Linked DNA regions of Homo sapiens. The protein of the gene in region 2 purifies or fractionates together with the protein of the main gene of each other region. This does not show direct contact. Each region holds a gene or a part of one and is shown on either strand. Other genes may lie near its edges.

What was found.
Region 1: the proteins of OAS2 (region 2) and PRKG1 purify together in Homo sapiens (affinity purification with mass spectrometry; 2 studies listed by BioGRID and IntAct, with this or other methods). This does not show direct contact.
Region 3: the proteins of OAS2 (region 2) and CGAS purify together in Homo sapiens (affinity purification with western blotting; one study listed by BioGRID). This does not show direct contact.

Annotation. Positions count from the first base shown.
Region 1 is NC_000010.11:52,295,350-52,298,873, reverse strand, and holds the end of PRKG1 (cGMP-dependent protein kinase 1), read right to left. Parts: 3' UTR 524-3,524; downstream 1-523. UniProt on the Homo sapiens protein: Serine/threonine protein kinase that acts as a key mediator of the nitric oxide (NO)/cGMP signaling pathway. GMP binding activates PRKG1, which phosphorylates serines and threonines on many cellular proteins.
Region 2 is NC_000012.12:112,998,886-113,002,545, reverse strand, and holds part of OAS2 (2'-5'-oligoadenylate synthase 2), read right to left. Parts: intron 1-3,660.
Region 3 is NC_000006.12:73,445,638-73,449,297, forward strand, and holds part of CGAS (cyclic GMP-AMP synthase), read right to left. Parts: intron 111-3,660; coding exon 1-110. UniProt on the Homo sapiens protein: Nucleotidyltransferase that catalyzes the formation of cyclic GMP-AMP (2',3'-cGAMP) from ATP and GTP and plays a key role in innate immunity.

The DNA.
Region 1 (3,524 bases), on a different chromosome or scaffold from region 2:
CTTTGGAGAGTTGAATTTGTTGTAATCATATTGTTCCCCAAATGTTTCTTCTTTGTGCATATGATGAAGCCAAGGAATCAGGTGAAAAATCCTTGGACAAAGACTCATGAAGTTGCTTTTCATATGAAATCATTTCCTCCTAGGATGTAGTAATATACAAGAATTGTCCCTTTGATTGTTTTGCCTAGTACAGAGTTTGACTAGGGATAGCCCAAAAAAGGACTGTGTGGTGGTCATGCTCAGAAATCTGCTAATTTCTGAGTTTGTGTGAATATCTATATTCACTTTGCTTTTCACACTGGATGGCCCAACATTATTCCTATGAATTCTTTAAAACCAATTTGTTGGATTAGTTTTATATTAGATTATAATATAGTATATTATTTCATGAGGGATGCTTGGATTATAGGTATTTCCTACTTTGTTATAGTGACATTCTACAACAGCACTACCTGGTATTTCATCTAGTATGATATACCAATTCTATTCTTGGAATCTTGTCTGGAATTAAACATCAACTAAGTTCAAAAGTAATTATTTTTTTATTTCAACTCTATAAAGTATACAACAGGCACTCAGCAATTACAGCTGCAGGAAAAATACAGAGCAAATCAAAGCAGGTAAATTTATGAAAAAGTTTTTAATCTACATCAAAAGAGTGCAAGTGGTCAATGACCATTTGATGACAGTTTGTTGCATTCTGACTAACAAAGAACTCTTTCATGTAGAACAAATTGTAAGAGGACAATCAAATAACCATAGCTGTAAGAATACAAAAGAACTGACCAGTTGTAAAAACATCATACATTGAAATAAATTTGATAGATGATGCTTAAAGAAATGTCCCTTTACTCAGAAAGCCCCAACCTCTGAGTCATTGCCAAGGTCCCAGAGCTCTGTCTGTTGATTCAGGGGCAGAGAGGAGGGCTAACAACACACTTTCAATGTTTTGCTTTCTAGGTCTGTTGAAAACTTGCCTCGTAAATGATTTGCATATACAAGAACTCGGAAAAAGCATCCTGTTTTGTTGAGAGGTGCACCAAGTGACTTTTTCATCATTGGTTTCATAACGAGGTCTGGTTAGCAGTCATTTCCAATTTTTCTTTTCGGTTGGACCATTGTCAATGGAGTCTATAAAATGAGATATGTTAGAACTTGACTGCACTAATTTATTTTTACAGAATCTGCACAGCTTAGCAAAACAGGAATACCTGTATACAGACTGATAGAATGTCATATATTAATTTGACCTGCACATACATTTATACATTTCACAGAAATGACGCTGTATCTCATTAACAGATACACAGCTCTGGTACATTTAACAGAAATAAGAGAACAACTTCATCATTTCTGTAATTCATCAATATTATATAATAAAGGCTTATAAATTGTTAGCAGAAAGAACTGTAAAACGCAGCAAGCTAAGAAAGGACAACATTTTGAGGTGTGTTTGTCTTTGTCATGCAGCATAACACCAAATTTGTTTTTTTAATAGGATGCCATGAATTTAAGGCACTTGCAACAATGCCAGATAGCCAGGTCATGTTCTAAACTATGGGACAGATGAATAACAGTACAGTTGACATAATTTTCAATAATACTGACAATTATGACATTAATTCAAGTCTACTTGGACCTAAAAACATTATTCAATACAAATAAAATGAAATAATAATGCTGTGAAACACTAAAAAAAGTTATATGTACCACAAAATATCACACAAAAATACCTATTTACATAAATATTTGTCTGTGGTCCTATAGTGAAAGAAAACGTTGTTATGGATAATGCACAGATCACCTCTATTGTATGAAATCAGTTCTAATATCCTTATTTTCAACATGGTAGCTGACTTCATTAAATTTGTTTACCATCAGTTCAGTCATTTAGAAATGAAACAGGAAAAATTCAATAGTTGAGTTTATTACTACACATGTGTAATTCACATGCATATTCCACAATTTTAGGTAAAAATTATGACTTGTAAAGAATATAACCAAAATAAATTTGTTTTGAATGCCACATGGATCTGATTCATGTCTTAATAAGAAAGAAGATATAAACATAAAAAGCATGTATAGCGTTTTTCCAGAAATTATTTTTTCAAATGTATTCAATCTATCCCAGTTGTTTTAATGTTGCTTCCCTTGGCAGTTTCAGTTTTCCTGTGAGTCAAGACACACAGAAAGCCCTTATTTCCCATACTCAACACATTAACAAGAAAATCATATAACAAATCAAACAAGTTGGCACTATTCTAACTTATCCAGATGTTCTTTAATGTAAGAAAATAGAGGGGTTGTGAAAAATTCAGAAATAAAGTGAGATGCATTTTATGGAACTGACCATGAATTTTAGCCCTAGAGTCTTCATTAAGACAAGATTTAAATCCTAAAAATTCAATGTTGACAAAATTAGACGAATGTTTTCTGTTGGTACATCTTGGAAGATGTAGTTTACCTTTATTTTGTGGTAATTACTTCAGACATCAAATGCAATGCTATGGGTGAAATGAACAAAGATGCAGTAACAAGTGGGAGAAACAATCTACAGTTTCTTGTGCTGAATGCTACTTCTTCCTTCTCCATTGAACTTATTCATATTGGTTGTCTTAGACTTGAACCATAGTTCCAAAATCCATAGCAAGTGCTAATCTCTGGGACTTTGGGGATTTTTAAAACGTTATAGGAGCAGATTCTCTTTCCAAATAACAAGGTAAATTTAGTATTCTAGCAAGCCTTTCTTTAGCAAGCCTAAACCACATTATCTTTCAACAAAAGTTACTGAACATTCACTATAATATTGGAATTACATATTTTTAAAAAGCCAATTAAAAATATAAAACTCTTGAAATAACATTCATAGCTAGATTTTAGGTTGATATGTTTAATTTTATATTCTAAAATCTGTAGAAAACAGTGGATATCTTGGGGAATAGACCAATTTGGAGAAATTGTAAGGGACGGAAAACTCCAAAAATACAAGAATAACAATATTTTAGGATTAAAGTTCTAATTGAAGTTTATACCCTTTTCATTTTATCCTCCAAAATTTTAAGAATATTATATTTTCATAAGATACCATATTCTAAGGTAGTTTTGAGTAAGAACAATTCAAGCAAAATTTATAAGATTTGCCTTCTTAGTTAAGGTGTAATGATCTAATTGGACTTTTTCTTCCAGAAATGTAGGCGTTTGATTGATTAAAAAGAAAACTCTACTGAAAAAAAAAGCAAGCGTCAATTTAATATACCAAATTCACACAGGGCCAAAACAGAATGACAGCTTGAAAGCTTCTATATTTTTCTTCACAGGTATAATGTAATTTTGTCCAGGAAATGCTTCCAAATGGCTGAGTTACTTATGACAGCTAATAATAGTCAACTGGCATGCCAGTGAAGGACTCAGTTTAATTTGTGGATTCTTTTCTCCATGTGAATAAAGTAAATCAGCTTGACATTTTCAAATCTAGTCTTTTTTAGGTAGTATGAAATTGCAGAATTGTAGTAATTCTATTTTAT
Region 2 (3,660 bases):
TTTGCTGTAGGTATTGGAGATTGCTGATGACCACATCCATTCCTTTCTTAAGGTTGTATCAGCCTGCGTTAAACACGCCATGTGCGGGTGTGTTGGTTTCCAAAGGCTGCCATAACAAGTGACCACAACTAGGTGGCTTAAAACAACAGAAGTTTATTCTCTCCCAGTTCTGGAGGCCAACAGTTCAAAGTCCAGGTTTTGGCACAGCTGTGCTCCCTCTGAAGCACACGTGGTTAAGTCTCTAGAGATGGGAGGATTATTCTGCATTACCTGGTTTGGCCTGATGTTATCACAGGGGTCTTTTTCCTCTTAATTTTAATTTTTAATTGAATTAATTAATACATTTTTCTCCACTTTTACTTTAGGTTCAAGGAGGTACATGTGTGGGGTTTTACATGGGTAAATTGCATGTCGCTGAGGCTTGGTGTATGAATGATCCCATCACCTAGGTAGTGAGCATAGAACCCAACAGGTAGCCTTCCAACCCATGATTCTAACCCATGTTTTTTCAGAAATAGTGTCTCGCTCTGTCACCCAAGCTGGGGGGCAGTGGTGCCATTATAGCTCACTGCAGTCTCCAATTCCTGGGCTCAAGGGATCCTCCAGCCTCAGTCTCCTGAGTAGCTGGGACTACAGGTTTGTGCCACCACGCCTAGCTTTTTTTTTTTTTTTTTTTTTTTTTGTAGAGATGGGAGTCTCACTAGGTTCCCCAGGCTGGTCTCAAACTCTTGGTCTTAAGCAATCCTCCCACCTCAGCCTCTCAAAGTGCTGTAATTACAGGCGTGAGCCACTGTGCTTATAAGGACAAGGGTACTTATAAGATGGAGGCAGGAGGGTTAGAGTTGGAGTGTGGTGGTGTTGGAGTTAGAGTTAGGTGGTGTGATGTTGGAAGTAGAGAGAGAGGCTGGAAGATGCTATGCTATTGGCTTTGAAGATGGAGGAAGGGGCCATGAGCCAAGAAATTTGGACAACCTCAAGGAGCTTGAAAAGGTGAGGAAGCATATATATGTATATATATATATGTGTATATATATATGTGTATAGATGTGTATATATATGTGTATATATGTGTATATATGTATATATGTGTATATATGTATATATGTGTATATATATGTGCATATATGTGTATATATGTATATATGTGTATATATATGTGTATATGTGTGTGTGTATATATATGTATATATATATTTTTTGGTTGGTGCAAAAGTAATTTTGAGACAGGGTCTTGTTCTGTCACCCAGGCTGAATGCAGTGGCACAATCATGGCTCACTGCAACCTTGATCTCCCTTGCTCAAGTGATCGTCCTGCCTCAGCCTCCCAACTAGCTGGGACTACAGCTAATTTATTTATTTATTTTTGTAGAGACGGGGTATTGTTATGTTGCTCAGGCTGGTCTCAAACTCCTGTTCTCAAGTGATCCTCCCGCCTCAGCCTCCCAAAGTGTTGGGATTACAGGTGTGAGCCACTGTGCCTGGCTCAAATTCATGTGTTTTAAGCCACTAAGTTTAGGGCATTTTTTTAAAACAGCAGTAAGAGGCAAGTAATTACTGTTCTATACAAATATTGTACTTTTGCTGGCAACACAGACAAGATGGGCTAGCTCACCTGGAGGTGGGGAAGGGCACTCAGCTTGAAAGTTGAAGGCCAACCTTGGTTGTTCTCAGATGTTGTAAGTTGGCCTTATAGTTGCTGAGGACGGTGCCTATTGAAGGAATATTCATTGCCAACACTGCCCCTTCCACAGGGCAGAATATTTGTGGTGTGTGAGTGCATATGTGTGCGTGGTATGAGTGCATGTGTGTGCATGTGTGTGAGTGCATGTGTGTGCATGGTGTGCATGCATGTGTGTGCATGAGTGCATGTGTGCATGTGTGTGAGTGCATGTGTGTGCATGGTGTGAGTACGTGTGTGCATGTGTGTGAGTGCATGTATGCATGTGTGTATGCATGTATGTGTGTGCGTGTGTGCGTGTGTGCATGGTGTGAGTACATGTGTGTGCATGTGTGAGTGTGTGTGTGCATGTTTGTGTATGCATGTACGTGTGTGTGTGTGTGTGTATGTGTGCATGAGCCCCCAATGTTTGGACCGCCTTATGCAGTGGTTCCTGGGCCTAAATTTTCTTCAACAACTGCAGAGACAGGGATGGTCTCACAGTTCTCAAAATAGAAGTTGATGGGATAGCAGAACAAAAACAGCCACAGTGAGTATCAAAAGATGGTTTAGGAGATGTTTGGAACTAAATGCCACATGTGCTTCTGGGTTGGAAAAGAATGTCCTATAAAGGCCCTTCTTGGAATGACTGTCGAAATCATCCCAATGGGCTGTATTGGGACAATAATATATGACTCCTAGTCTCCTGAATTTGATCATGGCATGGAGGTTATTGAAGAGAATATTCTTGTTCTCAGAGATCCCTATGAAAGCATTTAAGGGTAAAGAGATGTCTGGCAGTCTACTCTCAAAGGGCTCAGTATAAACAACAACTATAACAATGGGCCAGGTGAGGTGGCTCACGCTTGTAATCCCAGAGCTTTGGGAGGCCAGGTGGGAGGATCACTTGAGCCCAGGAGTTTGAGACCAGCCTGGCCAATGTAGCGAGTTATAGCCCCATCTCTTAAAAAAAGATTAAAAACAACTGTAACAACAACAATAATAACGTGTGCACACACAAACTGTAACATAGCAAATGTTGCACATGGGTACTGCATCTATGTGAGGGGATCATAGGAGTTTACTGAATCATTTTTCTAACTTTTTAAATGTTTCAAAGCTTCAGAATAAGATGTCAGGTCGGGGGGATAATTTTTTGAAAAAATCTGTCTGAAGAAGCCGGGAAAATTGGGGTCAGAGAGCAAAGACCAGGGGTCCAGTGAAAGTAGGGGTTAGGGTGGGCACAGGGGTGACTGCTCAGAGCGTCCTGATCCTTCTGGGTCCAGTTAGGGAAGTTCCCCATTCATAGACTCCCCAACCTCTGTGAAGTTTGCTAAACTCATTTACATCTTCATTTACATGCCAGATTGGTACTCAGTTAGCCTTCAAACTTCTGTGCAAACGGGGTATAGATTCCGCCTCCCATAACTTGAATATAAATTAATCTGTCTGTGAACTGTGGAATTTGATTGGCCTCTTTGGCCTCAATTAATACAGTTGTCTCCAGTGCGGTTCCCAGGAAAGCTGAGAGGGCTCAGTGGTCTAACCTGGGAAGGTTCTTCTTGGATGGCTTTTCTCTAATAAGCACTGAGCATGCAGGGGAGTTTGTGTTGACAGATTTACTTCTCCTTTTGGGGATGGGAGGGGGAAGGCCAGTGCACCTGTTTCACAGCTGGTGCCTTAATTGGTTCTCTTGTTTCGGCCGCACTTCTGACTGTTGCCCCCGGCACCTGCCTGAACGGAGCTCAGAGCCTGTCCTGGCATCCACAGGCCTGACTGCCACCCCCTTCTCTGAGCAATGCTCCGTTTCATGTCTCCACCTGCTCACCAGCTTTCTCTCTTGCAAAAATTAATTGAGATCTCGCATCTTTGGGTACCCCCCTTTCTCTTTGTTCCATTTTGCACTTCACAGTCATTGCCCTGATGGTGTGTGATGGGTTGAACTGTGTCTCCCTAAAAGATGCTGGGGTTCCAACCTACAGTATCGATGAATGTGTGTTACT
Region 3 (3,660 bases), on a different chromosome or scaffold from region 2:
TTTCTTTTAAATTTCACAAAGTAATATGCACGAGTGTTGGAATATTCTTCTAGTTGAATTCTGGGGACTTCCAGTTTAAACATGACATCAAATTCATTAGGTGCAGAAATCTAAGAAACAGTAAAAATAGTACTGAAATATTTGCTTATGAATATTTTCCAAGTGACTGGAACTTTTTAAAAAATTTCCACTTAAAACTTTACTTTAAAAAGCAAGATTCATAATGTCTATATATACCCTCTGGGAGTGGGACTAGTGGAGCTGGCAGGAGGTGGAAGAGTATTACCAGTTTCATTTTGTAGGTTCTACACTCAATTAATTTTTTTTACCATGACCTAGTATTATTTTTATAACTAAAAATGATTTTAGGCCAAGTGCAGTGGCTCACACCTATAATTAAATTTTGTGGGGCCAGGTGCAGTGGCTCATGCCTGTAATCCCAGCACTTTGGGAGGCCAAGGCGGGCGATTCACCTGAGGTCAGGTGTTCGAGACCAGCCTGGTCCAACATGGTGAAACCCCGTCTCTACTAAAAATACAAAAATTAGCCGGGCATAGTGGCATGCGCCTGTAATCCCAGCTACTCAGGAGGCTGAAGCAGGAGAATTGCTTGAACCTAGAAGGCAGATGTTGCAGTGAGCCAAAATAGTGTCACTGTACTCCAGCCTGGGCAACAGAGCAAGACTCCATCTCAAAAAAAAAAAAAAAAAAAATTTGTGTATGATATGTGGTAGGGAATCAAGGTTCATGTTTTTCCTACATAGATATCCAATTGACCCAGCATTATTTATTGAAAAAAAAAAATCGGGCCGGGCGCGGTGGCTCACGCCTGTAATCCCAGCACTTTGGGAGGCCGAGGCGGGTGGATCATGAGGTCAGGAGATCGAGACCATCCTGGCTAACAAGGTGAAACCCCGTCTCTACTAAAAATACAAAAAAAAATTAGCCGGGCGCGGTGGCGGGCGCCTGTAGTCCCAGCTACTCGGGAGGCTGAGGCAGGAGAATGGCGTGAACCCGGGAAGCGGAGCTTGCAGTGAGCCGAGATTGCGCCACTGCAGTCCGCAGTCCCGCCGGGGCGACAGAGCGAGACTCCGTCTCAAAAAAAAAAAAAAAAAAAAAAAAAAAAAAATCGTCCTTTCAGCCAGGCGCGGTGGCTCACGCTTGTAATCCCAGTACTTTGGGAGGACGAGGCAGGCGAATCACAAGGTCAAGAGATCAAGGCCATCCTGGCCAACATGGTGGAACTTCGTCTCTATTAAAAATATGAAAATTAGCTAGGTGTGGTGGCATGCACCTGTAGTTCCAGCTACTCAGGAGGCTGAGGCAGGAGACTTGCTTGAACCCGGGAGGCGGAGGTTGCAGTGAGCCGAGATGGTACCACTGCACTCCAGCCTGGGCGACAGTGCGAGACTCCGTCTCAAAAAATAAATGAATACATATTTTAATCAGTTTGTCAATTTAATTTAAAAAACTGATCATATTTCAACTGATTGCATTAAATCTAGAACAATTTGAGGAAAAATGAACACGATATAGTTGTCAATTACTTCCTCTTCAAATTTACCCAGTTATGTTTTTAAGTTTTGAATATCTTTAGTGATATTTATTCCTAAATATTTGATTTTTAAATTGTTTTTCAAGTTTTCAGTTTTTTGTTTTTTTTTGAGACAGAGTTTCACGCTTGTCACTGAGGCTGGAGTGCAATGGAGCAAGCTTGGCTCACTGCAACCTCAGCTTCCTGGGCTCAAGCAATTCTCCTGCCTCAGCCTCCCAAGTAGCTGGGAATACAGGCGCGCACCAACACGCCCAGCTAATTTTTGTAGTTTTAGTAGAGACAGGGTTTTGCCATGTTGACCAGGCTGGTCTCAAACTCCTGACCTCAAGTGATCTGCCTGCCTCTACTCCCAAAGTGCTGGGATTATAGGCGTGAGCCACCATGCCTGGCCAAAGTTTTCAATTTTTATTTTTTAGAGATGGGGTCTCTAGGCTGGAGTACAGTGGCTACTCACAGATAGATCATAGTGTACTGCAGCCTCAAACTCCTGACTTGATGTGATTCTCCCACCTCGGCCTCCCAAATAGCTGGGACTATCAGAATGCACCAATGGACCTAGGTTTGATATTTTTGATGATATTCTAAATGGTATTTTCATTTTGTTTTTAATCTTGTTAGTATATTGAAATATTTTTATTTTTGTTTATTGACTTTGCAACCAGCAATTTTGCTAATTTACTAATTATTTCCAACAGTTTATATGTGAAGCCAATCAAGTCATCTACACATAACGATTTCATCACTCTTTTTCCCATCTTATGCCTTTATTTTCCTTGTCTTGCTGCATCAGCTGTATGTATTCCTTTACGTTCTTTTTGTTGTTGTTCAACATTATTTATGTAATTCATTTTCACTGTTCATGTTGCTGTAGTTTGTTCCTTTTCTTTACCAGTTAATATACCATTACTTAAAACCACTGGCCGGGCACAGTGGCTCACGCCTGTAATCCCAGTACTTTGGGAGGCTGAGACGGGTGGATCACCTGAGGTCAGGAGTTTGAGACCAGCCTTACCAACATGGAGAAACCCCATCTCTACTAAAAACACAAAAAATTAGCCAGGCATGGTGGTGCATTCCTGTAATCCCAGCTACTCGGGAGGCTGAGGCAGGAGAATCGCTTGAACCTGGGAGGCAGAGGTTGCAGTGAGCTGAGGCCACCCACGCCATTGTACTCCAGCCCAGGCAACAAGAGTGAAACTCTGTCTCAAAACAAAACAAAACAAAAAACAAACAAACAAAAAAAACTACAATTAATTGATTTCTATGTAACCTTTTCACTGAGTCCAAACTATATAAATAGTAAAGTACATTAACACTTAGAATGAAAAGAACATATGGACTGACAATTCTACAGGGAATTTCTACAAGAAACTTCCCATGTATTTTCGAGATTTTTTTTTACCTAGAATTTGTAGTCCCAGGTAGCTGGGACTACCTGTGTGTGCCACCACATCCAGTTAATTTTTAACTTATTTTTGGTAGAGCTGGGGTCTCACTATGTTGTCCAGGCTGGACTCAAACTCCCGCCTCAGCCTCCCATGGTGCTAGGATCACAGGCATGAGTCCACTGTACCTGGCCCACATATATCTCATAATCAGTAATAGAAAAAGTTTTAGGCTGGGTGTAGTGGCTCACGCCTGTAATCCCAGCACTTTGAAAGGCTGATGCAGGTGGATCACTTGAGGTCAGGAGTTCGAGACCAGCCTGGCCAACATGCTGAAACCTTATCTCTACTAAAAATACAAAATTAGCCAGGTGAGGTGACGCCCGCCTGTAATCCCAGTTACTCTGGAGGCTGAGGCAGGAGACTCACTTGAACCCGGGAGGCGGAGGTTACAGTGAGCCAAGATCACATCACTGCACTCCACCCTGGGTGACAGAGCAAGACTCCATCCCCAAAAAAAAAGAAAAAAGAAAAAGAAAAAAAGAAAAAGTTTTAGATAAAACAAATTTCACTGGATTTCTTTTCATTGGCATAATTTTTAAAAACAAAGTGGTTCTGGGCTGGGCATGGTGGCTCCCACCTGTAATCCCAGCACTTTGGGAGGCCAAGGCGGGAAGATCATGAGGTCAGGAGATAGAGACCAGCCTGGCTAACACGGTGA